Linked DNA regions of Homo sapiens. The protein of the gene in region 1 interacts with the protein of each later gene in a pairwise test. Each region holds a gene or a part of one and is shown on either strand. Other genes may lie near its edges.

What was found.
Region 2: the proteins of CDR2L (region 1) and TBRG4 interact in binary tests that used the Homo sapiens proteins (3 or more experiments, as listed by UniProt).
Region 3: the proteins of CDR2L (region 1) and EHHADH interact in binary tests that used the Homo sapiens proteins (3 or more experiments, as listed by UniProt).
Region 4: the proteins of CDR2L (region 1) and SH2D4A interact in binary tests that used the Homo sapiens proteins (3 or more experiments, as listed by UniProt).
Region 5: the proteins of CDR2L (region 1) and KRTAP13-4 interact in binary tests that used the Homo sapiens proteins (3 or more experiments, as listed by UniProt).
Region 6: the proteins of CDR2L (region 1) and ZNF35 interact in binary tests that used the Homo sapiens proteins (3 or more experiments, as listed by UniProt).
Region 7: the proteins of CDR2L (region 1) and ZSCAN22 interact in binary tests that used the Homo sapiens proteins (3 or more experiments, as listed by UniProt).

Annotation. Positions count from the first base shown.
Region 1 is NC_000017.11:75,000,668-75,004,907, reverse strand, and holds part of CDR2L (cerebellar degeneration-related protein 2-like), read right to left. Parts: intron 3,568-4,240; coding exon 3,419-3,567; intron 2,845-3,418; coding exon 2,680-2,844; intron 1,726-2,679; coding exon 834-1,725; 3' UTR 1-833.
Region 2 is NC_000007.14:45,101,487-45,105,726, reverse strand, and holds part of TBRG4 (FAST kinase domain-containing protein 4), read left to right. Parts: coding exon 1-286; intron 287-684; exon of another isoform or gene 685-821; intron 822-1,017; coding exon 1,018-1,189; intron 1,190-1,244; exon of another isoform or gene 1,245-1,378; intron 1,379-1,470; coding exon 1,471-1,628; intron 1,629-2,283; coding exon 2,284-2,394; intron 2,395-3,235; coding exon 3,236-3,380; intron 3,381-3,656; coding exon 3,657-3,902; intron 3,903-4,112; coding exon 4,113-4,224; intron 4,225-4,240. UniProt on the Homo sapiens protein: Plays a role in processing of mitochondrial RNA precursors and in stabilization of a subset of mature mitochondrial RNA species, such as MT-CO1, MT-CO2, MT-CYB, MT-CO3, MT-ND3, MT-ND5 and MT-ATP8/6. May play a role in cell cycle progression.
Region 3 is NC_000003.12:185,205,038-185,209,277, forward strand, and holds part of EHHADH (peroxisomal bifunctional enzyme), read right to left. Parts: intron 1-4,240. UniProt on the Homo sapiens protein: Peroxisomal trifunctional enzyme possessing 2-enoyl-CoA hydratase, 3-hydroxyacyl-CoA dehydrogenase, and delta 3, delta 2-enoyl-CoA isomerase activities. Catalyzes two of the four reactions of the long chain fatty acids peroxisomal beta-oxidation pathway.
Region 4 is NC_000008.11:19,319,990-19,324,229, reverse strand, and holds part of SH2D4A (SH2 domain-containing protein 4A), read right to left. Parts: intron 1-4,240. UniProt on the Homo sapiens protein: Inhibits estrogen-induced cell proliferation by competing with PLCG for binding to ESR1, blocking the effect of estrogen on PLCG and repressing estrogen-induced proliferation. May play a role in T-cell development and function.
Region 5 is NC_000021.9:30,428,764-30,432,082, reverse strand, and holds KRTAP13-4 (keratin-associated protein 13-4), read right to left. Parts: upstream 1,864-3,319; 5' UTR 1,808-1,863; coding exon 1,325-1,807; 3' UTR 1,057-1,324; downstream 1-1,056. UniProt on the Homo sapiens protein: In the hair cortex, hair keratin intermediate filaments are embedded in an interfilamentous matrix, consisting of hair keratin-associated proteins (KRTAP), which are essential for the formation of a rigid and resistant hair shaft through their extensive disulfide bond cross-linking with abundant cysteine residues of hair keratins.
Region 6 is NC_000003.12:44,654,774-44,659,013, forward strand, and holds part of ZNF35 (zinc finger protein 35), read left to right. Parts: intron 1-3,927; coding exon 3,928-4,240. UniProt on the Homo sapiens protein: May be involved in transcriptional regulation. Involved in cell differentiation and/or proliferation.
Region 7 is NC_000019.10:58,339,913-58,343,572, reverse strand, and holds the end of ZSCAN22 (zinc finger and SCAN domain-containing protein 22), read right to left. Parts: 3' UTR 1,241-3,660; downstream 1-1,240. UniProt on the Homo sapiens protein: May be involved in transcriptional regulation.

The DNA.
Region 1 (4,240 bases):
GGTGTGAAGGGATGGGGGCTCCCCACTGCCCCGGCCCCTGGAAAGCTTAAGGCCCAGCAGGCATTTCTGGGGTTGGAAGCCAAGGAGACAAGCTCTGAGCGAAACTGCACCACTCTGCTGAGGGGCTCCTTCTCCTCCTCCTCTGACTGGCTACAGATCTGCGGTGGGCCAAGAGTATCCAGGGAGAAACCTGTCCCTGGCAGGGCTGGAGCAGGGACACTCCAGGCCCAGCTGAGGCTTCCTGCTCTGCATGGCAGGGGACATCTCTGACCTGGTCAGGACCCTGGAGGTGGGACAGCTGGTGCTAAGGGAATGTCAGCGCATCAGGGTTGGGGAGAAGCAGTGGGTGGTCCAGGAAACCCCTGAAACAGCTGGCCCTGGGGTCCCCTTTCAAGTGTTTCCAGTTGTGGCAAGGGGTCAAGGAGACCTTGCATTGCAAATCTCTTAGAAAAAACAAACTTAACCAAAAAAAAAAAAAAAGCCAACTGATCCAGAATGGCTTTCAGAAGCCTGGTCACCAGTCTGAGGGTGAGGCGCAGGGTCAGGAAGCCAGGGGCTGGGGGAGCTGGGGGATCCCTGGGGTAGTGGGGACATTTGGCTTTGAACTCAGAGCTGCGCCTTTGGGCTGGCGCGAGGTGGCCAAGGGCTCCTGGGAGGCAGGACAGGTGGGCTGCCTCCGCTCAGCAGGGAACATGCTGCGTGCTTCCGGATCAGGAGGCCGCGTGCTGTGGTGGCAGGCCGCTAAAGGGCGCTCGCTCTCTGGAAGCTGCACCGCCCAGGCCTGAGGGACCCCACGGCTTCCACCCTGGGGGAGGCTGCAGGCCGGAGAAGGGTCACTTGCTGCTGTGCGTCTTGACTTTGGTGGCGTTGATGTCAGCCTTGGTCTTCTGGATCCTGGAGAAGATCTCTTTGAAGAGCGCCTTGTACTCGGGCTGGCTCTGTTCCAGCCGCTTGTCCACGGCCTCCACGTGCTGGCTCAGGCTCTTCTCTCCTGCCTTGACCTCACCCTGGCCCTCCTCACCCCCGCGCAGGTCCCTCCACGAGCTGTCCCGGGAGATGGGGCGCGAGGTCTGCACGCCGGCGTGCCGCACTCCGGCCCCGTGCTGCCGGCACTTGCTCAGCAGCTCCTCGTACTTCTCCAGCAGCGCGTGGTACTGCTCGTCCACCTCCCGCAGGATGGACATGCCCCGCTTGCGCACGCTGTTGGCGTGCAGTGTGAGGTTGCCCGCGTGCCGGCTGGCTGGGTCTTTGGCCACGATGGCGTTGAGCGCAGTGTCGCTGCAGCTCTTGCGCACCACGTGGCCTGGAGAGGCTGCCGGTGAGGAGACCCCGTCCTGGGCGCCCAAGTCGTCCCCGCGGCCGGGCTGGGGATCGTCGGCCTCAGGGGCCTGCGTGAGGGGTGCGAGCAGGGCCTCGGCCAGGTGGTCGTCCGGACCCAGTAGGTAGGTCTTGGCCTGCTTCATCTGCTGCAGCTCCAGCAGCTCGGCCTCCAGCTCCTGCACACGCAGGCGACAGGCCTCCATCTCGCACAGCTGGCGCTCCAGCTCCGAGTACTCCTGCAGCACCGCGGTGTACTCGCGCTCCGCCCGCTCCTTGCGCTGCCGCTCCTGGCTCACCTGGGAGCGCAGCGCCCCCACCAGGGTCTGCAGCCGCTCGTTCTCCTGCTCCAGGGGCCGCGGGCCCAGCTCCAGGGAGGAACTGTGTAGGCGGAAAGCATCCTTGCACCTGGCGGGTAGTGAGAGTCGCAGCGGGGTGGGGGCGGAGGAGAGGGCAGTGGTCACGGGCACGGCCAAGGCCGAGCAGCCCAGCCAGGGCGCTTACATCTCTCTTGTTCTCTGGGCTGAAATTGTTTGCCCCTCTCCGTTGGCTCTCCACCCTCCTCCACCCTTCTCCCCCTGCTCTCTGCCCCCGGAGGCTGACCACTACGGACCGCCTCTGTCAGGTTGCCTGGTTCTCTCCTGAGCTTGGCCCATGAGAGGCACTGGCTAGAGGTCCGAGGGGGGAGCAGAGGCCGTGGGGTGTGTCTTCTTTGGGCTCTCCATGGTTAATGGTGACCAGGCAGCCTTCTCCATACCTTCCAGGTGCCGGTAACCTCCCTTCCCCCTTGCGCTTTGAGGCCTAGGGCTGGTGGCAGCTCCTCTCTGCTGCAACCCTGGGGCACTATAGTGTCCCTGTGGTTTCCCTACCCCCTGCCCACACCTCTTCTTCATTTAACTTCTCCATTACTCTGTGTAAGAGACTGTTTCCTGCCAGGACCCTTATTGAAACACCCACTACATATGACACATGTATTTTTCCATTATTAAGTGGTTGTCTAGTGTTAGATTTAATGGGAACTGAAAAGCACAGTGGGTTACCCCTCCTGGGTTAGCATGCTGGCTGAGCCTCTTACTAAACAGGTGACCTTGGATAAGACACACAACCTCTGGGCTTCAGTTTTATCATCTGGAGAGTAGGCATAATAAAACACCCCCAACAGTGTTGCAATAAGAATTATATCAGCATAGTGGCAGCACACAGCCAGGGCTCAGTAAACGCCAGCTGCTGTGACTGTCATTAGCAACAGGACCAGTCTCTCTGATGGCCTGGATGATGCACCAACTGCACCCTGCTGCCTGCTGCCTCTCCTTCCTCCCATGGCTGGCAATCCCAGAGACACCAAGCAGTGCTCTCACCTACCGGGGGCTGGTGCACAGCTCCTTGAGGCAGGGGAAGGTGTGGATGGTACGCCTGCGTTCCCGCTTCTCCCGGAGCACTCGCAGCTGTTCCAGGCCTCTCAGTTGCTCCACCTGGGCCTGCAGCTCCTCCACCTGAGCCTGGAGGCGCTCAATGGTCTCCGTCAGCCTGGGGGCGGGGTGGTGGACACACAGGGACTTTAAGGGGATGGGGCCAGTTTGCCTCACGGCAGCCCTGGCTCCCTGAAGATGGAGGGACGTTGGGTAGGAGGCAGACAGGTACCCTTGAGCCGCTGTCTGGTCCTGAGGTAGGATGGGGAATTCTATGCATGCCCAAGGACCCGCCCTTCTTTTGTACCTCTCAGGCGAGCTGATCGCTTCTCCTCTGTGCCACCTCAGTTCCTTGTCACTCCTCTATCACTTATTGTCCTGCACTGCCATAAAATATTTACATGCCTGCCTTCTCTTCCAGGCTGTGAGGTATTAGAGGGCAGGACAATGTCTTTGTTTCCCCATCGTTGCATCCCCAGTGTCTAAAGAAGAGCCTGGTGCATAGTTGGTGCTTAAAGCAAGGTTGCGGCCTGAATGTTAAACCACACAAAATCGACAAGGACAAGCTCACTCCCATCCCCGGTTCCTAGGGAGACGTGCACAAGTCACACCCATCAGTCCATGGGCCCCTGTGTACACTCAGCCCTGGGGCTCTCCCTCGCCCGCCCCCCAGCCCTCAGCCGGGCCCTCACCCATGGATCTTCTGCTGGGCAGCCTTACTCTCCAGCACCAGCCTGTGGTTGGTCAGCTCCAGGTCCCGGGCTGTCAGGTCCAGCTGCTCATAGACTTTGGCGTGCTGCTCGTTCACGTGCCGCAGCGTGTCCAGCTGCTTGGTTAGGTACTGGGGGTGGAAGGACATTGAGTAACTTTTTAGAATTGGGCAGGGGCAAATGTCTCTGCCTAGACCCTCCTACTTCTTTTTTTGTCTTTTTTCTTTTCTTTTCTTTTGATACAGAGTCTCACTGTGTTGCCCAGGCTGAAGTGCAGTGGCATGATTTCGGCTTACTGCAACCTCTGCCTCCTGGGTTCAAGTGATTTTCATGCTTCAGCCTCCTGAGTAGCTGGAACTATAGGTGCCTGCCACCATGCCTGGCTAATTTTGGTATTTTTAGTAGAGACAGGGTTTCACTATATTGGCCAGGTTGGTCTTGAACTCCTGACCTCAAGTGATCTGCCTACCTCTGCCTCCCAAAGGGCTGGGATTATAGGCATGCACCACCACGCCAGCCTCTTTTTTTTTTAAATTAATTAATTTATTTTTTTTGAGACGGAGTCTTGCTCTCTCGCCCAGGCTGGAGTGCAGTGGCGCGACATCGGCTCACTGCAAGCTCCACCTCTTGGGTTCACGCCAACCATTCTCCTGCCTCAGCCTCCTGAGTAGCTGGGACTACTGGTGCCCACCACCATGCCTGGCTAATTTTTTGCATTTTTAGTAGAGATGGGGTTTCACCGTGTTAGCCAGGATGGTCTCGATCTCCTGACCTCGTGATCTGCCCGCCTTGGCCTCTCAAAGT
Region 2 (4,240 bases), on another chromosome or scaffold:
GGGAAGCCTGTATGCTCTGGGCATCCCCAAGGCCTCCAAGGAGCTGCAGTCGGTGGAGCAGGAGGTCCGCTGGCGCATGCGGAAGCTCAAGTACAAGCACCTGGCCTTCCTGGCAGAGTCCTGTGCCACCCTCTCACAGGAGCAGCACTCGCAGGAGCTGCTGGCTGAGCTGCTCACACACCTGGAAAGGCGTTGGACAGAAATTGAAGATTCCCACACATTAGTGACCGTCATGATGAAGGTGGGACACCTCTCGGAGCCACTAATGAACCGCCTGGAAGACAAGGTACTGGGCCTGAAAGCAGGTGGCACCCAGCCTGCCTCCCCTGGGCTTTGGGCTTGTTCTTTGGGTGACAGTTGTCTGCAGAGGGGTGCGTTGTGTGCACTGGGATCAGAGCCCTGGGAGCTTCTGTCTGGAGCCTCAGGCATCACATGGGGCAGGACCAGAGGGCTCGGAGCTGCAACAGGTGGTTGCCCTGTGGCTGCATTCATCAAGCACCACTTGCTCCTCCCAACACAGGCGCTTCCCTGATTGCACCTTTATCTTTCCCCCAAACCCCATCACAGCACGATCTTGAGAGGGGGGCATGGCAGGCAGCTCCTGAAGTAACACAGCTACTGCCCAGGCCTGGCTTCTGGCTAGAACTCTCCTGGAGATGTGCTAACCCCTATCGGCTGTAGCCCTGCAGTCAAGTCAAATTCAGTGCCCGTTTCTGTCATAGCGGGGGCTGGCCCAGATGGCTGCCACAGCAAGCTCCACAGCTCATGGGCCCTGGGTCACCTACCCTGGGACCTGGGGATAAGTTTGGCTGTGGACAGTGCTCCAGGTCCAGGGGTTCCCTGGGGTGGATGAGGAGGCAGGCCCTGCACAGTGGTCCTGTGTTTAGTCAGCTCAGGCCCAGTCTGACAGGGGCTGTCACAGGGGCTGCACTGGATGGGACCATGGGACCCCTGCCCCCAGCTCATCTCTGCCACCCCAGGCCATTGAGCTGACCTCTGCGCGGCTGTGGTTGACAGTGCCTGGAGTTGGTGGAGCACTTTGGCCCCAATGAGCTGCGGAAGGTGCTGGTGATGCTGGCAGCTCAGAGCCGGCGGTCCGTGCCCTTGCTGCGGGCCATCTCCTACCACCTGGTGCAGAAGCCCTTCTCTCTGACGAAAGATGTGCTCTTGGACGTGGCCTATGCCTATGGTGAGCCCTTTGGACAGAACGGTGGAGAGAGGGGAGCGCTGGCCCTGCAGATGCCTGCAGCCGTGTCAAATTCAGTACCTGTCCTATGCATGGTAGGCACTGGCCCAGAAGGCTGCCACAGAAACACTGTGACTCATGGGCCCTGTTCCTGTGTCCCAGGCTCAGGGATAAATTTGGTTACAGACATCAAATATCTAGACCTCGAGGCTGAGGTGGGGTGGAGCTGCTGGGTGATTGCTGACTCTCTCCAGCTAAACCCTGTGATCTGCTCTGTCCTGAAGGCAAACTCAGCTTTCACCAGACCCAGGTGTCCCAGCGCCTGGCCACCGACCTGCTATCCCTCATGCCCAGCCTGACTTCTGGTGAGGTGGCCCACTGTGCCAAGTCCTTCGCCTTACTCAAGTGGCTCAGCCTGCCCCTGTTTGAGGCCTTTGCCCAGGTGAGCCAGGGCCTGGCCCCAACTCAGAGAAGCTGGCTTCCTGGCCATCTGCTGGGAACCATTGCCTTAGTCGGGAAAGTAAAGCCAGTCTGAAAATGCTCACTTGTGGGGGCAAATACATATTTCTTGCATTTTGGCTTATTTTGAAAGGGCTGCTATTCAGTTCTCAAAAAAGTGTTTGAGAACTGTTTCCTCTGTTCTTTCACTGACCATTATAAGTGCTTCCATCCATTTTGGGGTAGCTGTAGCAGGTAGCAGCATGGCTGATGAGACTGAGAATCCACTGAGAACTGTCTACTGAATCACTGATCCCCCTCGCAAAGTGGAACTGTACAGAAAGATGACACCTGCAGTTACGTTTATGTGTGACCAGTCTAAACTAAGTTTACTGGTTGGAGAATATTTCTAAATCCCTTATCAGAAAGAAGCAGCTTCTAGGTGTCCCCAGCCTCTGTGGGTAGTTGCTGCCAGGCGAAGGAGTGTCTGGGCCTGTGTAAGTCCTTCTCTGTTCCCGACACAGCTCATGGGCCCTGGATGGAGGGTCCTGCCATTGCCCCTGGCCATGCAGGCTCTCCTCAGACTCAGAGCCAGGCAGGAGGACAGCGTGCTGGGCAGAGAGCTTATTCTGTCCCTCTGCTATTTCTGACCCACCCAGCACGTCCTGAACAGAGCGCAGGACATCACCCTGCCCCACCTGTGCAGCGTACTTCTGGCTTTTGCGCGTCTGAACTTCCATCCAGACCAAGAGGATCAGTTCTTCAGCCTGGTAGGGCCTCTGGGCTCCCACTGCTCGACCTTTATCCTCCCCTTCAGCTAATGGCTCATGAACCGTCCTCCCAAGATCAGCTCGGGCTAGGTGGAGGCGGGAGGGGCCACTATGTGTGGCATGGGAGGGCAGGGGGAACTGATTGGAGCCAGGCATCCTAGGGATTACTGAGAACACATGAAATCCTGCTGTCTGGTTGACTGCCCTGCCAGGCAGCGCTGGGGGGTCCTGCCTCTGGTGCTCCTTTTAATGCCCTGTTGATGCTCAGAAGCTCCAGTGGGCCTTCGTGCTATGTGCACCAGCTCAGGGCAGGAGGGGGAGCCTTCTTTATGAAGACCTTAGGACAGCCACAGAGGCCAGCAGGCCAGGTGTGATCCCAGGCTCCCTGGGATTCCATCAGGGGTTTGTCTGGCACAGTCCTGAGAACAATTAGCCAGGGGCTGGGGAGTGCTGCTTCACCTCTTGGATGCTCTCATCTCTCAGAGGACCAGAGATTCCTCCTTCCTTGTCCCAGGTGCTCACTTGGAGACATTATGGGAGAAGGGATCTTGTTCCCTGCCAGTAGGTTGGTTGTAGTAAACCTAATCAAATGCCAGCATTCAGCAGCACTCTTCTGCTGTTCAGAGTGGTCTTGGGGCATGAGGAAGATTCCTGGTACCTTCAAGCCCAGGATTGCTCCAGGCCTCACCAAGGGCCAGGGTTCTGCCTCTTGTTACCTAGTAGCCTCCTCTGGCCTCATCCCAACCAGGCCAAGACCACATCATGGATTGTGTCTCACCCATGGCTATTTGCAGCCCCTAAGGAGAGCCTGCTTTCTCCACCACACTCTATCCTTGCCCAGGTACATGAGAAGCTGGGGTCAGAGCTGCCAGGCCTGGAGCCAGCCCTGCAGGTGGACCTGGTGTGGGCCCTGTGTGTGCTGCAGCAGGCACGGGAAGCAGAGCTGCAAGCCGTCCTCCACCCTGAATTTCACATCCAATTTCTAGGTGAGCCCCCTGCCCCTAGTACTACTGGAACTGGGAAACTGCCTGGTCTTGTCTGCCTAGTGCCAGGTGAGAATTTGGGGCAGATGGAGGCCAGGGCTCTCCCTCCCCCTCGCTCTCCATCCTCTCCCTGTAGGTGGCCAGCAGACCGTAACTCTGCTGCCTCCTGACCCAGAAAACTGGGCTGGGACTGGGTGTAGGGGTGCACTGCCCTCTCATCAGGGTCTCCCCATCTCTGGCCGTAGGCCCACCTCCCTCTTCTTTCTCCTTGTCTCCTAGGGGGCAAGTCTCAGAAGGATCAGAACACCTTCCAGAAGCTGCTCCACATCAACGCCACTGCCCTGCTGGAGTACCCCGAGTACTCGGGTCCCCTTCTGCCTGCCTCGGCTGTGGCCCCTGGGCCCTCAGCCCTTGACAGGAAGGTGACCCCCCTGCAAAAGGAGCTGCAGGAGACGCTGAAGGGGCTGCTGGGGAGCGCCGACAAGGGCAGCCTCGAGGTGGCCACGCAGTATGGCTGGGTGCTGGGTGAGGGCTCCCCCTGGTTGGCACAGGGCCTGGCATTGCCTGAGTCTAACGGGACTCTTCTAACCCACCCCGTCTGCAGCAAGTACTGACCTAGGGAGCTGCAGGGTGTCAGCCTGGGCTCCCCACAGTCCCATCTTTGTTCATCTTTCCTGTGGGGGGGTTTCTGAGGGATGTCCCCCAACATGTTCTCATCCCACACCCCTTCCCCAGATGCTGAGGTGCTGCTGGACAGTGACGGCGAGTTTCTGCCCGTAAGGGACTTTGTGGCACCTCACCTTGCCCAGCCAACTGGGAGCCAGTCACCACCTCCAGGGTCTAAGAGGTAGGTGGCCAGGGAC
Region 3 (4,240 bases), on another chromosome or scaffold:
TAATAGATTAATGATTAATTAATTAAATTAATCAATAGATTAATATTTAATCTGTAATTAATATTAATATATTAAATATTAATGAGTCTAAGGAAAACGGTTCTGAGTTAATATTTTATTTATTAATTTTTAAAAATTATTTCAGCTTTTATTTTAGATTGAGGGCATACATGTGCAGGTTTGTTACATGGGTATATCACACGATGCTGAGGCTTGGGATATGAATAATCCTGCCACCCCAGTAGTGAGCATAGTACCCAGAAGTTGGTTTTTCAACCTTTGCCATCCTCCCTCCCTTCCCCTGTAGTAGAGACTCTAGTGTCTATTATTGAGTGAATATTTTAGATTCAAAATAACCTTAACTCCGTTCCTAATAGTAACAAAAACTTTAAAATACCTAGAAAAGGAGACAGCGTGGTATTGATGCAAGGATAGGTATATATATCAATGGAAGAGAATCGAGAGTTCACAAATAAACTCTTACAATTATAGCCAATGATTTTCAACATAGGTGTCCAAACAATTCAATGGAAGAAAGGAGAGTCTCTTTTTTTCACATTCAGAATTTTTATTTTAAAACAAAGAATCGGAGCAACATTAACAACAGAAAATCCATATGGAAATATTCACAATCTGCTCAGTGAGAAATGGGAAAACAACTTTCCTGCCTTACTGCCAACCTACTGTTTGAGGAGCCAGAAGTTGACGTGAGGTTGGAAGGTCACCTTTTCCAGCTAAATCCCACTGAATAGGTGTGTGCATTTTTATTCAAAGTCTCCGCAACCAGAGGGAACAGAACTGAGAACAAAAATACTGTTATTGGCAAGGGTTTGGCTAAAGGGTCTGGCTAAAGGGTCTGAGATGTGCAAGCACCAAGAAGGGATAGGGAGATTGAGCAACACATGAAAAGAGGGGCTGTAGGAACAAGCACCGAGAAAGTAAGTCAACTATAACCTACTTCCACCCAGAGCAAAGTGACTGTGCACATAAATCCACACTCTCAAGTGTGGGCTACACTGCACGCTGACTCATACGATCTCAAACGTGGTTTATTGGAAAGATTCTAGTCCCCTAAGGGCACTCAGCGAAGGACCACAGTGACATGGTAACAGATGCACACAAGCATACTGTGACCCTAAAGCAACAACACACTTTAGATAATAATCGTTCAGAAAAAAATCCTCAAAAGGAGAATCTTTCAACAAATCGTAGTGGGATAATTGGATATCCACATGCCAAAAACAATAAAAAAAAAAAAAAATTTAGGTCCTTACCTAGCACCATATATAAAAATCAACTGAAAACAGATCACAAATCTAAATTGAAGAACTAATACTATAAAAATTCCTAGAAGAAAATATAAAAAAATTTTCAGGACCTTGGGGTTAGGCAAAGTATTCTTAGATACAACACCAAAAGCATGACATACAAAAGAAACAAGAAATCAGACTTCATAAAAATTAAAGACTTTTGTTCTTCAAAGGATATCAATAAGAAAATGAAATGACAGCCAGGTGCAGTGGCTCACGCCTGTAATCCTAGCACTTTGGGAGGCCGAGGCGGGTGGATTGTCTGAGCTCAGGAGTTCGAGACCAGCCTGGGCAACATGGTGAAACCCCATCTCTACTAAAATACAAAAAATTAGCTGGACATGGTGGTGTGCACCTGTAATCCCAGCTACTCGGGAAGCTGAGGCAGGAAAATTGCTAGAACCTGAGAGGTGGAGGTTGCAGTGAGCCGAGATCATGCCATTGCACTCCAGCCAGGGTGACAGAGCGAGACTCTGTCTCCAAAAAAAACAGAAAAAAAAAAATGAAATGACAAGCCATAAACTAGAAGAAAATACTTGTGTGGTAGTCAGAATAACACCCCCCCCACCAAATGTTCATGTCTTAATTCCTAGAATCTGTGAATGTATAACCTCACATGGTAAAGAGATGTATAGGTGAGAGTAAGATTAAAGACCTTGGCTGGGCACAGTAGCCCACGCCTGTAATTCCAGTACTCTGGGAGGCCGAGGTGGGCAGATTGCTTTGAGCTCAGGAGGTTGAGACCAACCTGGGCAACGTGGTGAAACTCTGTCTCTACCAAAAATACAAAAAATTAGCCGGGCATGGTGGCGCACCCCTGTGGTCCCAGCTACTCTGGAGGCTGAAGTGGGAGAATCGTTTGAGCCTGAGAGGTTGCAGTGAGTGAGCCAAGGTCGTGCCACTGCACTGCAGCCTGGGTGACAGAGTGAGACCCCATTTCAAAAAAAAAAAAAAATTAGACATTGAGATGGGGATATTACCCTGTGTTATCTGATTGAGTGCAATCTAATCATATGAGTCCTTAAAAGCAGAGAATCTTTCCTGACTGTGGTGAGGGGGATTCAACAAGGAAGAAGGGTTAGAGAAATGCAACATGCAAAGGACTCGACCTGTTGGCACTGATGTAGCTTTGAATATGAGGAAAGGAGACCAAGAACTAAAGAATGCAGTGTTCTCTAGAAGCTGGGATTGACCTTTAAGGTTTACAAGGTCGCAAGTTTGCAAGCAAGAACATGGGGACTCTGATCCCACAATGCAAAGTACTGAGTTCTGCCAACAACCCAAATAAGCAGGAAACAGTTTCTCCCCTAGAGCCTCCAGAAAAGAGTGCACCAGCTGACACCTGGATTTTAGCCCAGGGAGACCTCTACAATACTTCTAGTCTACACAACTGTAAGAAAATAATTTCGGATGATTTAAACTGCTAAGCTTGTGGTAATTTTTTAGCACAGCAATAGAAAATATAATTGGCACATCAAATATCAAATAAAGAACTTGTTTCCAGAATATGTAACAAACTCTTATGACTCAATAATTAGGTAAACAATGTAATTTCTTAAACGGGCAAAAACTTGAGCAGTTATTTCATCAAGGAGCATATGTGAATGGCTAATATGCACACAAAAAGATGCTCGACATCATTAGTCATTAAGGAAATGCAAATTAAAACCGCAACAAATGTGGTAGACAGACTCTAAGTAATGGGCTGTCATTTCTAGATTAGGTTACAAAAAGACTCTGGCTTCAGTCTTGCTCATACTTTCTTGCCCTCTCAAATTGGTCACTCTGATGGAAGCCAGCTGCCCTGTTGTGAGCCACCCTATGGTGAAGCCCACGTGGCAAAGAACTGAGGGAGGCTTTCAGCCCACAGTCAGTGAGGAACTGAGGCCCTCAGTACAACAGCCCATACGGAACTGAATCCTACCAACAACCGCTTGAGTGAGTTTGAAAGCAGATTCTCCCCCTGACCCCTAATCAACCTGAGATGACTACAGCCACAGACAACACCTTGATTGTAGCTTTGTTTGAAATCTGAAAGCCAGAGGACCTAGGACACTTGGATTCTGGACCCACAGAAATTGTGGAATAAATGTTTGATTTTAAGCCACTAAGTTTTGGGGTCATTTGTTATGCAGTTAGACTTACTAGAATGACTATAATAAAAAGCCATCACTACTGAATGTTGGTGATGATGTAGAGAAACCAGAAGCCTCATACGTTGCTTCTGAGAGTGTAAAACAGCACATTGCTTTGGAAAACAGTTTAGTTGTTTCTTAAAAAGATAAACATAAACTGATTGTTCAACCCAGCAATTTCACTCCCAGGAATCTACACAAGAGAAATGAAAGCATATGCCATAAAGAAAACTTGTCTACAAATATTCATGGCAGCATTATTTATAATAGCAAAATCTGGAAACAATCCAAACATCCATCAGCTGTTGAATGACTAAAGAAATTTGATAGAGCCATGCAATAGAATATTATTCAGCAATAAAAAGGATCAAACTGTTGATACATGCTACAATACAGATACAGATGAGCCTCAGAAACATTATGCTAACTAAAAGAAGCCAGATGCAAAACATTACATATTGTATGATGCCATTTAGATCCAAGGTCCAAAAAATGCAAATCTATAGAGACAGAAAGATCAGTGGTTGCCTAGGGCTGGGGATGTGAGTAGGAGTTAGTGTTAATGGGCATGAAGAAACTTTTTGTGGGAGTGGACAAGTCTTAAAATTGATTTATGGGGATGGCTGCACAATCTATAAGGCAAATCACGCCTCATTAAAACTGTTAAAGTGTATCTAGAAATGAATTTATCAAGAAAGGTACAAGACCTTTCAGAAGATAACTATACCATTTTATTGAAGAACATAAAATAAGACCTTAATAAAAACAGAAAAGCACCATGCTTCTGGATATAAA
Region 4 (4,240 bases), on another chromosome or scaffold:
CCCATGAAACAAGTGCTGGGAAACACGCTGCTAAGCGAAGGCGTCTTCTGTTTGCGTTACCCAATAAAATCACCCAAGAAGAAGGCTCTGTGGCAGATTCCTGACGCGAGCACATGTTTTAGATGTGCGCAAGGCGCCTTCACATAAAAGTCACTGTCATTAAGGTCCAGTGAAGGTAGCTTCAGACAAAAGTCACTGTCATTAAGCTCCAGTTAAGCTCTACGTGTAGTTTATTTGTTTACAGTGCTGGCTTTGGGAGAATGAGACCCAGGATCTATTCCAGCTGTGTCACTTACTGTTTGCCCTGGCCAAGTTAATGAACGTCCCTGAGCTTGACTTTCCTCATCTGTGAAAAGTGAATAGCAACACACACTTCAGGCTTAGCTGTGATTATTTAGTGAGACAATATACTTAATCTCAATGCTCAGGGTCTGATACCCAGTTAAGCGTATTGAATGCTGGCTGGTGCTACCATTATAGCATGCAGAAATGTGTACCACATCCATAACTATCACTTTTCTAGTAGCCACATTAAAAAAATCAAAAGGAGGCCGGGTGCCCTGGCTCACACCTGTAATCCCAGCCCTTCGGAAGGCCGAGGCAGGTGGATCACCTAAGGTCAGGAATTTGAGACCAGCCTAGCCAACATGGTGAAACCCCATCTCTACTAATAATACAAAAATTAGCTGGGTGTGCTGGCGCACACCTGTAACTCCAACTACTTGGGAGGCTGAGAAAGGAGAATCGCTAGAATTTAGGAGGCAGAGGTTGCAGTGAGCTGAGATCATGCCTCTGTACTCCAACCTGGGAGACAGAGCAAGAGACTCTGTCTCAAAAAAAAAAAAAAATCAAAAGGAACAGGTGAAATTAAGTATTTTACTTTACCCAAGATATACAAAATATCATCAGTTCCATATATAAGGAATATACAATTATTAATGTGGCATTATCTTTTCCTTCTACCAAGTCTTTGAAATCCGGTAGTTTACATGTATAGCACACCTCAATCCAGACTAGCCTCATTTCCTGTGCTCAAGAGCCACATGTGGCTTGTGGTGACTGCACTGGACGGTGCGGCTGTAGACCTCTAGCTACCCCAGCAAGCAGAGTAGATCCATACGTCTCTCCCTAAGTATCACATTCTCCCACTACAGAAATCAGAAATGATCTTCTCATATAGTACTAAGTTAAATTCACATGCTGATAGTTTTTCAGCCCCTTCTACTTCAGCCTTCAGATTACTAACAAGTAGACAAGTCGGGCACGGTGGGTCATGCGTGTAATCCCAGCACTTTGGGAGGCGGAGGTGGGTGGATCACTTGAGGTCAGGAGTTCAAGACCAGGCTGGCCAACATGGTGAAACCCTGTCTCTACTGAAAATACAAAAATTAGCTGGGCATGGTAGCAGGTGCTTATAATCCCAGCTAGTCACTCAGGAGGCTGAGGCAGGAGAATCGCTTGAACCTGGGAGGCAGAGGTTGCAGTGAGTTGAAATGTCACACCACTGCACTGCAGCTAGGGAGACAGAGGTTGCAGTGAGTTGAAATCTCACACCACTGCACTGCAGCTTGGGAGACAGAGCAAGACTCTGTCTTTAAAAAAAAAAAAAAAAAAAAAGAATAATAGACAAGTTTCTGTGATGCACAATACACAACAATTTTAGTGATGATCCCCAAACACTAAGCACAGGGGTCTGTGTATTCGTAGTGAAAAATGACCAGATGACAATGAAGGAACTTCTAAGTGATAAGCTAGAGGGGGTCAAGGAATGGCAGGGGTGGCCTATGATGTTTTTAATGAAATGAACAACCTTCAAAACCACCGTGTGGCTAAGAACTGCTAAGAAAAAGCAGCACTTAGCTCAGTACTAACCAGAAAGGCGGGAGAAGGGGAGGCAGGGAGCACAAGCCTTCAGGGATCAGATGCACGAGTGACCTGTCAACCCACAAGGGTCATGGGCTTAGCAGGTCTGCAGCACAGATAAGCACCTCTGGCAGCACCAGCCATGACAGCATTGCTTTGGACGGTCTATGGCTTTATCTTCAAAGACAGCGCAAGATGAAAGAGAAGTGATGGGATTTTAGGGGAAGTGGGAGTAACTTTTTCCCTTTCTGTAGTCAGAAGAGGAACTAATTTAATGCAAAATATATTTTTCCAAGTTTTCAATTTAAGGGAGTAATACACTTTTGACGTGAGATATTGATAGAACTTTCCCCACTTATATTAACATACTTTTCTCATGATCATTTGACTAACAAAGTTAACACAGGGTTTCTGAGAGGTAGATTCAAAACCCTACAAGCGAGAAATGTAAGCAAAGAAACTGAAATTATTATTTTAAGTCATCACAAGGAGACCAATTCAGCAAACACGAGAAACCCAAAGTCTAACAGAGTCTGGGCCATTGACTCTAGTGGCAAGAACCCTTTGGCTGCTAGTCCCCAAGGTCACCCCATCACACTAATATATGTTATGTTCACAGTGAACATGGTGCCCAGAAGAGACCCAATTATATCTGAAAAACTCTGACTGGGGAATCCAAGAAGGTGCATAAACCAGTTTAGAAAGAAAAAGAGTTATGTTTCAGTTTGGCCATGTTATTTGTTGGAGGAAAAGTTGTATTTTGGATAGTGCAGAATAATGTAAAATCCAACAGAACTGGGCATCTATTGGTGGTATAACCTTGCATATATTACTCAACTTATCTAAGTTTCATGGCCAGCTTCAGTGGCTCAGGCCTGTAATCCCAGCACTTTGGGAGGCCCAGGTGGGCAGATCGTTTGAGGTCTGGGGTTCAAGACCAGCCTGGCCAACATGGAGAAACCCCACCTCTACTAAAAATTCAAAAATTAGCTGGGTGTGGTGGCACATGCCTGTAATCCCAGCTACTTGGGAGGCTGAGGCAGGAGAATTGCTTGAACCCGGGAGACGAAGGTTGCATTGAGCCAAGATTGTACCACTGCACTCCAACCAGGGCGACAGAGTGAGACTCCATCTCAAACAAACAAACAAGCAAAAAAAAAAATGAACTTCTCTAAGTCTCATCATCTGTAAAACAGGACTGTCACTGCTGACTTTGCAGAAGTTTTGTGAAGGTTAGGCATTATATGCATAAATGTGCTTCACATAGTGTCTGAAACAGGAGGTGTTTCATAAATAGTTGTATTGATCATAACAAGAGGAAATGACATATTTCTGTTTATTTCCTTGTCATGATAAAGGCATCACTGGAAAAAAGTTTTAATAAAAGACAGTAAAAAGTAAAGGACGCTACACTGACCTCCTTTGTGAACCTGGGCATATACCAGGGATGCAAGAGAGATTCATTTTCTCAATCTTTGAAACCATATGTGATTTTACAAAATTTTATTTTCCTGGTTTAATGAAACATGAAAAGAGACGGTCTTAGATGCCTCTGCAAGTGACCTTGAAAAGTGTGCTGTGTTTTCACAACTTTGGTATTCACCCATGACAGACTTCGCATGTAAACAGCAAGGCGGGGGTGTGGGGGTTAGTGAGAACGGAGTGAGGAGGGTGGACAATGTGTATTTTTCTGTGTCTGTATGTGTATATGCTTTAAGTCTTTTTTTTTTTTTTTTTTTTTTTGACACACAGTCTCACTCTGTCACCCAGGGTGGAGTGCAGAGGTGTGATTTCAGTTCAGTGTGGCCTCGATCTCCTGAGCTCAAGCAATTACACCACCTCAGCCTCCCAAGTAGTTGGGACTATAGGCATGTACCACCATGCCCAGCTAATTTTTTATTTTTCCTAAAGAAAAGGTCTCACTATATTTCCAGGCTGGTCAGAACTCCTGGACTCAAGTGATCCTCCTACCTCGGCCACCCAAAGTGCTGCAATGACAGGCATGAGCCACTGCACCTTGTCTGCTTTAAGTCTTAATGTACAAAGATTTCCTCCCCCATGGTCTCAAAAGAACCCTCTCAAACTACCAGAGATTCCTTTGATAACGAGGAAAAGTTTACATCTGAGAAACTCATTCACACTAAAAAAAGATAGTATTATGATTTTTTTCCTTATAGCAATTCCTTACATTTTAACAGGAGGTGTTCCCTAAAAAGATACCTCAAAGAAAAATCTCTGAGGTCTAAGAAATGCAAACACAATTGCTATAAATATACTGACACAAGAACTTTGTGTTCTAGTAGTAGCATATTAGGAACCAGTAACAATAAAGGAGATAGAAACCTTTCTTAATACCCCTCAAATCAAACCTCATAGG
Region 5 (3,319 bases), on another chromosome or scaffold:
TGTACCTGGGTTTCTTCCAGGTCACAACTAGGAAAACAGAAGGTGCCCACTGTGATTCTTTCCTTGCATAATTATAAGGTTCCTGAAAATTACACATCTTGGATATTGTTCAGCCAATGGGAGAAAGAAGCGGATGGATAAATGTTTTTCCATGTTGATCTGATCCTGTGGGGGACAATTCCAAGAGTCATTCTACATGCTCCTAAAAGGTCCTTACAAGATTTAGCCAAGTTGCTCTCCATAAAATAAACTCGAAAATGCACCCTTTCTTTAGATTTTCCTCTTTGATTCTTTCATCTTCCATAGTGTCTCATACTTGCTTCCTGGGATCTTGTGCCACATAAACTGTTTGCACCCAAATCTTTGACATTAGCCTTGTTCTGGGGAGAAGAGGAGGATCCAGAGTAAGACTAATGGATATAAATGCTTGTTCAGCATGGCTCAGGTGTGTTGCTGTCAGCTTGATTAAGGTTGAGCCTTGAAGAAGCATCGGTAGGTTACCGAAGCCTCCTGGACCCAATAATTCCCACTTAAGATCATTGGTGAATGATCCTGACTCTCCTTACCAGTGGGAGGCAGGAAACCTGGCACTTAAGTCTACTAACAAAGAGCAAAGCGTCTGTCCTAGCAGTGCTTAAGCTTCACTTTTCTCTTGGTTGAAAATCCACATTCAGATACTAGACTTTAAGTAACCTTTAGTGCAAGCATACAGTTTACCTTATAAATTACATCCTAGTCTTGTTGTCTGCATTTCTAGTTTATGCATCAAATTTTCTGCTTTCCTATATCAGTAGAAATGCATGTCCTTCATTCTTAGACAATTCTCACTGCTGTTGAGACAAGTCTGCAGATGCAAACTATGTTCTTCCAGAAATGATTACTCTTAATAGACAACATACCTAATTTCAAGAGAAATGTTCTCAGATCTGTCAGATTATATGGGCCCCAAATCCAGTTACACAGTCATATTGATTTTTACTTAAATCTCCCAAATTCTTGAATGCAAAAATGTAAGCAAAATAATAATAATAAAATAATAACAATGTGAACAATATATTTGGGTACCAGATTACATACATTTATTAGATTAAAATTTCCATTTTCAACAGTTTTTGGATGAAAATCAGATAGCATATATTCGATCAATGGTAAAGATATTAGAAGTTAATATTAGGTTACTCATTAATTTCGCAGTCTGCCAGAAGTTGGTCATGCAAGAAGCTGGTGGTGGAAGAATAAAAAGATATTGGGATCTGGCAAGAATGAAAATAATGGCTGCATTCAGTAGAGACTTTGATCCCAATACTCAAAAGGATCTAGAAATTTAGCAGGTGAATTGATAGAAGCGAGATCCACAGATTGGTCTGTAACAAGAAGACTGCCAGGCTCCAGAAGCCAAGTAGTTTGGGTAGCAGAATCTGGATCCGTAACTCAGGGAAGGAAAACCACAGCCTCCATATTTCAGGAATCTGAAGCCACTGGATCCATTTCCCAGCGAGTAGCAGCACCTAGATCCATAGCCCTGGGAGCGACAGCTGCTGGACCGAAAGCCTAGAGATCCAGAGCAAGTCGTCTGACAGGGACAGCAGAGGATGGAGGTCCTGGGGCGGTAGCAGGATTTCTGGCAGCTGGCGGGCTCCCAGCAGGTCTTCTGACAGTCCCTGTAGAGAGAGGAACGCAGCTGGCAGGTGCTGGGAGAGCAGAGGGCAGTGCTGTAGACCAGGCTGCTGGGGTAGGAGCCTGGGTAGTACAGGTAGCCCCCAAAGGAGCGGGAGGAGAAGTTTCTAGAGCAGCAGTTGTAGGACATGCTGATGAGAGATGGGAGTTCAGCTGAGTGTACCTAAGAAGATTCTGAGTTTTAATGTCGCATCCTGGACAAGGGCATTTATATCCTCTCAGCAATAGGTGTGGTGCCCAACAGGGTCATCCTTTACATATTTGTGATCCCTCATTTACATATGTGTAACTGCGTAATCTTGTCTGTAATTGCATTTGAATAGTTTTCCATGTATTGTATTTATGGGTGCTATAATTTTCGTGTTATAGCACAAAGCCAATGAACTGTACTTATGTCAGAAATGCTATGACTGTTTTATATTAATGTCTAGCTCATCATGACAAGGAAAGCTCTTCCTATTTCTTTGGCACATGCTAACTGCCTCTTTTCCTGTGTATTCACATCTGGCTTTGCTAGTAGATGTTTTCCTCTTAAGAGTGGGGAATGAGATAACGTTAGTTTCTTTCTGGTGCAATTTCCACCTGGATGAGAACCTTTGTGAAAATGATCCATCTTGTCACCATTGATTGCTATACTCCAAAATTACTTTGTGGTGATTTTTTAGGGCGGTAAGAGTAAATTAATACATTAAGTACTACAGTTATAAAGTCTGTCTCATATCCAGTGAAGAAAGATCAAGAACAGGCAAAGCAAAGAGATAGAAAGAAATGGCTAGAAATTGAAAGAAACCTTGCCATTTATTTAAAGACGAGATAACAAAAAGAAGCTCGATTGAAACACAGTCACAGAGAAGATCAATTTGAGGTCATGTCTCTTCAGCCAAAGAGCCCGAATGCTTGTCTGCTGAAGGGAGGAAACAAGTGAAAGAGAAACAAAGAGAAAGCTCAGGAATTTCAGAATTTTTTTTCCTATTGCATTCCAGCTGTCATGTGTCTTGTCTCAATGTCTTTATGAGCAAAAATTTTCAAAATTAGCAAATCTTATGAACTTTGATATATTTATCATCTACTTTTGTAATTATACAGGACTTCTACCTTCTTAGAATGGCTCTAGCTTTCCATATTACTGGCTTTCAGTGTCTTTTTGCCACTTGTAGAACCAGGTACCATCCTACATTTTCCTGTGAAAATGTGAAGTTTCTTTGTTCCCCAGTCCTCTTTTCCTCTGCATGGTATATGAATGTTTCTCTCTTATTTTCTCTCTCTCTTCCTCTGACTTTCTTTCCCTCTATTTTTCTTTCTTTTTTCTGTGCTTAAGTTTGATTTTATCTTTTTTCTTTTTTTTACTTGTTATATTTTATGTTTTGTTCATGTGTTTGTTTGCCTCTGCTGAATTATAGATTCCATGTTGAAAAATAAAAATTGGACAGCTTTGTCGTATTCTTTGAGGATAGCCACTTTGTAAGTTCATTCACAAAATATTCTATGTTGAAATACAAGTAGTTAAATTATATTCAGGACCAAAGAAAGTGTACTGTCATGGTTGATGACATTTTATTTTATAATAAAATATAATAAACTTACAACAATAATGTTAGACATTTTCTCGATTAAATTTTCTCAATTAAAATGTATGGCAATA
Region 6 (4,240 bases), on another chromosome or scaffold:
TGAGAACATTTGTATTTTTTCTTTAACTTATGTTCAGTTAAGCTTCAAATTTTACAGATTAAATTTTTTAAACATTTTGGCCGGGCGCAGTGGCTCAAGCCTGTAATCCTAGCACTTTGGGAGGCGGAGGCGGGTGAATCACCTGATATCAGGAGTTCGAGACCAGCCTGGCCAACATGGTGAAACCCTGTCTCTACTAAAAATTCAAAAATTAGCCAGGCATGGTGGTGCGTGCCTATAGTCCCAGCTACTTGGGAAGCTGAAGCAGGAGAATCGCTTGAACCCGGGAGACAGAGGTTGCAGTGAGCCAAGATTGCACCACTGCACTCCAGCCTGGGCAATAGAGCAAGACTCTGTCTAAAAAAATAAATTAATTAAAAATTTTAAACATTTAATTCTACCTGCTTATCAAATTTCTTTATATAAAACATAATTACAAATTTGATATCTTTAGTTCTTTAAAACATTCCAAACACCTAACTGGGCAGACTTACAAATCTTGTAAATAAAATCTTGATAAACACAGCTGTTATAAATCTAATGAATTGGACTTATAAATTTAGTAAATCAAATTACCCTTCTTATCTCAGAATACAGTCACCAGCTAAGGTGGCAGGCTTATGTAGCATTTCAGCTATCTTTAAAAAAAAAAAAAGAGTGAAAGAAGAGTATTGATTTAAAAACTATGGCTATGCCTGTGTTCTAGTTGGTCACAAATTAGTTTTTGTTTTAGTTTTTCATTATTTCTGTACTTAATTTAATTTCTCTAGAGCTACAGTAATCCTACATGTTTTTTAAAAAAAGGAAAAATACCATTTCAAATAAGCCAAGGTTATACGCCCGGATTATTTGCTGATTAATCTTTTTACCCAAAGAAATTTGAACTTGACTATACCAGATGGACCCTAATTCTCTTTTCTTAGGCACTTGCCAAGACCCCAGGTCTTACTTTACTCAGTGATGAATCACTTGCATGAAAACCTTCTAGGCTACAGTTGCACCTGGTTTTGTAATGGTTTTGACATGAGACATTATTCAGATAGAAGGAATTGTTTCCGTTATTGGCTCTAATCAGTTTAGTAGTTCCCATTGATCTTCATGCCCAACATTCTAAATCTCCCAGTAAGGAGGGTAGGAGTGAAAGTCAGGGAGACAGTGCAGCTATGAACTAAAGTTTTCATGGGCTCTGTTTCTGTTGGAGAGATGCCCAGCTGGGGTATGGGAGGCCCACGTGTCAGTGATGGGGAGTTAAAGCAAAAGAGGAGGTGAAAAGAATCAAGGGAGGAGACGTTGGATGGGAGGAGAATAAAGTGGGATGTAGGTGATAAAGTAACAGTAGAGAACACAAAGAGAAGCAAGCAGTCAGCAAAAGAAAAACAGAAGAGGCATGAAACTGTATATGGAAAAATTCAAAATATTTCACACAAAAAATTAAAAAACAGGAGAGGAGAGAGATGAAGAGTCAGTAGGGGGTCGAGATAGCAGGAAAAAATAAGCAGCAGCAGAAGAAAAGATATAAAAGCAAGTGAACTACAGAGAGAAAAACAGAACATTTTTAAAAAGAGGGAGCTAGCAGAACAGTAGGAATAGAAATAACCAGAAAAAGTTTAGCATTTCAGATTTTTTTTTTTTTTTTGAGATGAGTTTCGCTCTGCTGCCCAGGCTGGAGTGCAGTGGCACGATTTCGGCTAACTGCAACCTCTGCCTCCTGGGTTCAATTGATTCTTACGCCTCAGCCTCCAGAGCAGTTGGGATTACAGGTGCCTGCCACAACACCCACCTATTTTTTTTGTATTTTTCCTAGAGACGGGGTTTCACCATGTTGGCCAGGCTGGTCTCGAACTCCTGACCTCAGGTGATCCACCCGTTTCAGCCTCCCAAAGTGGTGGGATTACATGAGCCACTGCACCCGGCTTTTTTTTTTTTTTTTCTTTGAGATAGAGTCTTGCTTTGTCTGGCCCAGGCTGGAGTGCAAGTGCAGTGGTGCAGTCTCAGCTCAGTACAGCCTCCACCTCCCAAGTTCAAGTGATTATCCTGTCTCAGCCTCCCAAGTAGCTGGGACTACAGGCATGCACCACCACACCTGGCTAATTTTGTATTTTTAGTAGAGACGGGGTTTCACCATGTTGGCCAGGCCGTTCTCAAACTCCTGACCTCAGGTGATCTGCCTGCCTCAGCCTCCCGAAGTGCTGGGGTTACAGGCATCAGCCACTGTGCCTGGCCAGCATTTCAGATATTTATTGTTTGTCATATCTGGGGCTCTACTGTATCCAGCACTTGGGCATTTCTTTCCTCTGACACTGCTCATCTTGTCTGAATGATTGTGATAGAATTTCAGATTACCATAGTCTTAACCAGGCAATCAAACCAGGCTGTTTTCCTGCCCCCAATATTGCTTTGTACCACCCCAACATCCTTGTCCCACCCACTCATATCATTGGTTGGATGGTCATCCTATAGAATATTTCCCTCTCATGGGTGCTAGTCTCTCCCCTGCGCAGTAGCAGCAGTTATAACCTGAAGCTCACAGCACCACTGCTTATTTCTGAGCTGACATCACCAGTGGGAATACCTCCCTCCTCTACAGGCTTGCCACCCATTCCTGTTACCCTTTATTTCACTTGCCTTATTTCTTGAGCTTGGTTTAATTGACAAACACTTCTTAAGGGTTCACTGTGCCAAAACTGGATTACATGGGTGCACATTTCAAGGTTAAGGAAAGTGAGTGTGCAGAGGAGACAAACATAAAGAACTATGATGTTACTGATAGCAGGACCCCTTTTTGACACCATTAGGTTCTGAAGCAATGTAAAGCATCCAGAGACTAATCAGTGTCATAAAGCTTCAGGGTGTTTTGAAGTTCTCATGATATTTTCTGGCATTGTGGAGCAGGCTATGCCATAACTCAACAAGGTCAGCTTTCCTTGACACAATGCTAAGCTGTTCCCCTGACACAAGGGTAAGAGTTTGCCATGTACAGTTTCTTTTTTTATTCTCCTAGTGTAGCTGTCTATCACCATAGCAGCTCCCCTCCCCTAAGGGTTCATCTTTCCTTCTGGCCCCTCACAACATCATCAGTCAGCCTGAAAGTTGCTGCACACATTCAGAGCACTGACTGTATTCCAGGCAATATCTGAGTAGTTGACATAGAGTAACTCCATTAATCTACTCATGGCCTTATGAGGTAGATACTATTAGTATCCCTGTTTTAGAGATTGGGAAACTGAGGCACACAGGAGTTAAGTAGCCCAAAGTCATGGAGCTAGTTAGTGTCAGAGCAGAGATTTGAAACCAGGCAGTCTAGCTCTAGAATCCATGTTCTTAACCTGTATGCTGCAGGACCTCGCAGTGTTTCATATGGTTTTGGCTGCTGTGGCTGTCTTGGCAGCCAGTGTTACCCTTTCTGTCCGTGCTTATCCTTTCTTTGATATCCAGCATCCTCAGACACAGAAACCTCAGTTGCTAGATCTTTGTTTACAGGTAGCAAATCACCCTAATTAACTGGTGGGTTGCAAGCAAATCCACACTAAGTAGCTAAGGTAAGAAGGCAAGCCTAGGGAGAGGCTTGTGTCCTTCATAACTGGTCTTTGTTGCAAGGGCAGTCATCATACAGCCAGCAGGAGCACTGTCTGGAGATTGGCCCTCCCTGGCATGAGGCAGCGGGCAGCGGGGTTAAGTGTCTAATGGAGGCAAGTGGAAGTGCTGGAAAGACCACGAGTCAGTGGGTTCTGCCATAGGTAGAGGGGAGGGCAAAGCCCCAGCTGAAGAACCTAGAGAGGAGAGGTAACATGTGATGGGATTCTCTTCTTTGATGAAGCCATTTTGTGGAGGTGCTGAAATCACATACTTCGTTTTATGACTTGATGATCCTATTCTTTTTCTAGGCCAGAGAAAGCTAACATTTGTATTTTCTGTTTCTTGGTTCAGGTGCTGAAACCAAGAACCTACAGTTACTGGTTCCAAAAACTGAGATATGTGAGGAAGCTGAAAAACCCCTCATCATATCAGAAAGAATCCAGAAAGCTGATCCTCAAGGACCTGAGTTAGGAGAAGCTTGTGAAAAGGGAAACATGTTAAAGAGGCAGAGAATAAAGAGAGAAAAGAAAGATTTCAGACAAGTGATAGTGAATGACTGTCACTTACCTGAAAGCTTCAAAGAAGAGGAAAACCAGAAATGTAAGAAATCTGGAGGAAAATATAGCCTTAATTCTGGCGCTGTTAAAAATCCAAAAACCCAGCT
Region 7 (3,660 bases), on another chromosome or scaffold:
TTGTAGACACGGGGTTTCACCATGTTGGCCAGGCTGGTCGCAAACTCGTGAACTCAGGTGATCCACCCACCTCGGCGTCCCAAAGTGCTGGGATTACAGGTGTGAGCCACTGTGCCCAGCCTTTTTTTTTTTTTTTTTGAGACAGAGTCTCACTCTGTTGTCGAGGCTGGAGTGAAGTCACCCAATCTCGGCTCACTGCAACCTCTGCCTCCCAGGTTCAAGCAATTCTCCTGCCTCAGCCTCCTGATTAGCTGGATCTACAGGCGTGTGCCGCCATGCCTGGCTTTTTTTTTTTTTTTTTTTTGAGACAGAGTCTCGCTCTGTTGCCCAGGCTGGAGCGCAATGGTGTGATCTTGGCTCACCGCAACCTCCGCCTCCTGGGTTCAAGCGATTCTCCTGCCTCAGCCTCCTTAGTAGCTGGGATTACAGGTACACACCACCACATCCAGCTAATTTTTTGTATTTTTAGTAGAGACGGGGTGTCACCACGCTGGTCAGGCTGGTCTCGAACTCCTGACCTCGTGATCCGCCTGCCTTGGCCTCCCAAAGTGCTGGGATTACAGGCGTGAGCCACCGTGCCTGGCCAATTTTTTGTATTTTTAGTAGAGAAGGGGTTACACACCATATTAGCCAGGATGATCTCAATCTCCTGACCTCGTGACCTGCCTGTCTTGGCCTCCCAAAGTGCTGGAATTACGTGTGATCCACTGTGCCCGGCCCAGGCTGGCTAATTTTCGTATTTTTTGTAGACAGTTTCACTATGTTGCCCAGGCTTGCCTCGCACTCCTGACCTCGTGATCCGCCTGTCTTGGCCTCCCAAAGTGCTGGGATTACAGGTGGGAGCCACCGCACCCGGCCTCTTCAAATGTTTTCTATCATAAAGAACGTGTTAGCACTTCCAAGTACACTTAAGGTTTCGTCAGTTTCTCACTGTGATTCTGTTCTACAAGACTCATATTATGTGCCTGGTTTTGAACTATTACATCTTCCTAATAGATTGTTTCTTTTATAAAAACATAGTGACCCCATGATTCTTAAAATGCTTTTATACCTTAATGTCTGTTTTGCGCGACTAATGCAGCTCCATCAGCTTTCTTCAGTTTCATGCCTACCTTGTATATCCTTTTCTATCCCTTTGCCCTCAACTTCCCATATCCTTGTTTTAGGTGTATCTTTTCTAAAGAACATATGGCTGGTCCAAAAAGAAATTCAGTCTGTTAGAATTTGTCTTTACACTTGGTTTGTTGAGTACAGTCATGTTTATTGAAATTGCTGACATATTTGGATATGCTGTCAAATCCTAGTGCTTCCAGTTCCTGGCAGTGTGACTTTGGTCAGTTACATTCTCTAAGCCACTTCCTCCTCTATAAAACAGGGATGGTTGTGTGAGGACTGAGATGTATATAAATTATTTGGTAGACTGGGCAGCACACACAGGCTCTGAGTAGATTCCCTTTTTTCTCCCTCATCTCCTCCCCTTTTAGACAGACATGGACAGATATGTCTCAACGACCAAATGGGTGAAGATGCTCAGAGCATCAAGGGGATGGAGATCCAGTTCTTGTGACAGAGACTGAGCAAGTAGGAGGCAAAGAGAGGTGCTGATGATTGCTGTGAGTCAGAGACAGTGTGCAGGGCCAGGCTTTGGGTCAGGCACTACACAAGGTGGGTCCTGTCCCTGGTTTACATATGAGGAGGTCATGGAGGTTCAGGAAAGTCACTTATCTTAGGTCCCAAAAGTAGCCACAGGGAGGAGTCAGGCTCTGCAGCCTGAATTCAGGCCCATGCCTTTTCTGTTCCCTCCAGCATGCTGGAAGCCTGTGCAATTTCACTAGGAATGTGCATCTCTCCTCTCTGAGTTTTCCCCTAAGCCTGTCATCCCTCTCAGTCTCTCAGCCTCTGGCACACGATATGTGGCCCTCTCTGCCTGTGTCTGGGACTCCCTCAGAGATACTTCCACAAAGTCTCTGTCTCCCTGAGTCTTACCTTCATGTTATGAACGTTTCTCATCAGTCTCTGTGCCTCTATTTACTCTTGACATAGAGGGAATGGGCCCGAAATACAGGGAGATACATATGGAGAGATGGTGACGGTGACTAGTACACAATACGCCAGGTCAAATGGTTCACATATGATGAGACCATCACAGAAACAGAGGCATGAAGAATGATACACTAACAGTAATGAACAGAAGCTGCAGCATCCAGTGATAGACAGGGACCCTAAAAATGGGACAGGGATGCAGCATTGTGAGAGAAGACCAGAGAACACATGGACAGAATGCTGGCAAAGACTAAGTCCATGACACCAGGGGATCTGGGGCCCTAGAAAATGACTCAATACAGTCACATTTTATTGAGGCCACTGCATGCCAGGCTTATTTGGGTGCTGGCCCCCAGGAAAATCAGATTATTCTTGCTCTCCAGGGTTCAAGCTGCTGGGGAGACATCCATGTAAACATACATAAGGACAATGTGGGGCAGAGACAGCACGGTGACTGCCTCCTGGGGGCACCAGTCACATTCATGTAAGAGACATCAGTCAGGGCCTACTGAGTCTTGTGTGTTGTAGATACTGAGAGTAAGACATGGCCCCTGCTCTCAGGAGTTTATGGTATCCTTGGAAAAGGCAGCTCTACAAGGAGCAAATAAGTAAAACAAGGTGGCAGGAGTTGTAAGAGAGGTATCTAGGAGGTGCTCTGGAAGCAGAGAGGGCAAGCTGAAGTCTGCTCCCGGAGAGCAGGGAGGTTTCTTTGGGCAACATTTGAAACACCTTAGATGAAAAAGGAGGGCCAGGTGCGGTGGCTCACGCCTGTAATCCCAGCACTTTGGGAGGCCGAGGCGGGTGGATCACGAGGTCAGGAGATCGAGACCATCCTGGCTAACATGGTGAAACTCCATCTCTACTAAAAATACAAAAAAAAAAAAAAACTAGCTGGGCGTGGTGGCAGGCGCCTGTAGTCCCAGCTACTTGGGAGGCTGAGGCAGGAGAATGGCATGAACCCGGGAGGCAGAGCTTGCAGTGAGCCGAGATCGCGCCACTGCACTCCAGCCTGGGCGACAGAGCGAGACTCCATCTCAAAAAAAAAAAAAGAAAAGAAAAGAAAAAGAAAAAGAAGAGGAGGGTTCCAGGCACAGGTACAAAGGCACATAAGTGGGAAAATGTATGGCTCCTTCAGGGACCACAGTAGTTCCGTGTGGCTGGTGTATGGAAGGTGGAGCCATGGTATGAGATGAGGCCATTTTCACTGCACGCACAGAAAAATGACAGTATTCATACATGCATATGAGGATAACTGGAGAGGTTGCTCGGGGCCCAGAGCAGCCTGCATCTCAGCATACTTATACCCTGTTCAGGAAGCTGTGCTGTAGAAGATGGGTTGGAGAGCTTTCCACCTTGGAGTGACACAGTCAGATCTAAGTAATATCAAGAGTCCCCTGGAGAGTGATACAGGGGCAGAGAATAAAGGCAGGAAGTGGTCAGGAAGGAGACCCCGGCTATAATCCAGGCAAGAGGCAATGAGGGCTCACATAAGGTAGCAGTGGTGGAAAAGGAGGTGAATTACAGATAAGCTTTAGGTTAAAACAATAGCGCTGGTGACTGGTGGGATGTGGAAGGAAAAGGAGAGACAGGAACATGCTGGGCAGGTGTCAAGCAGCA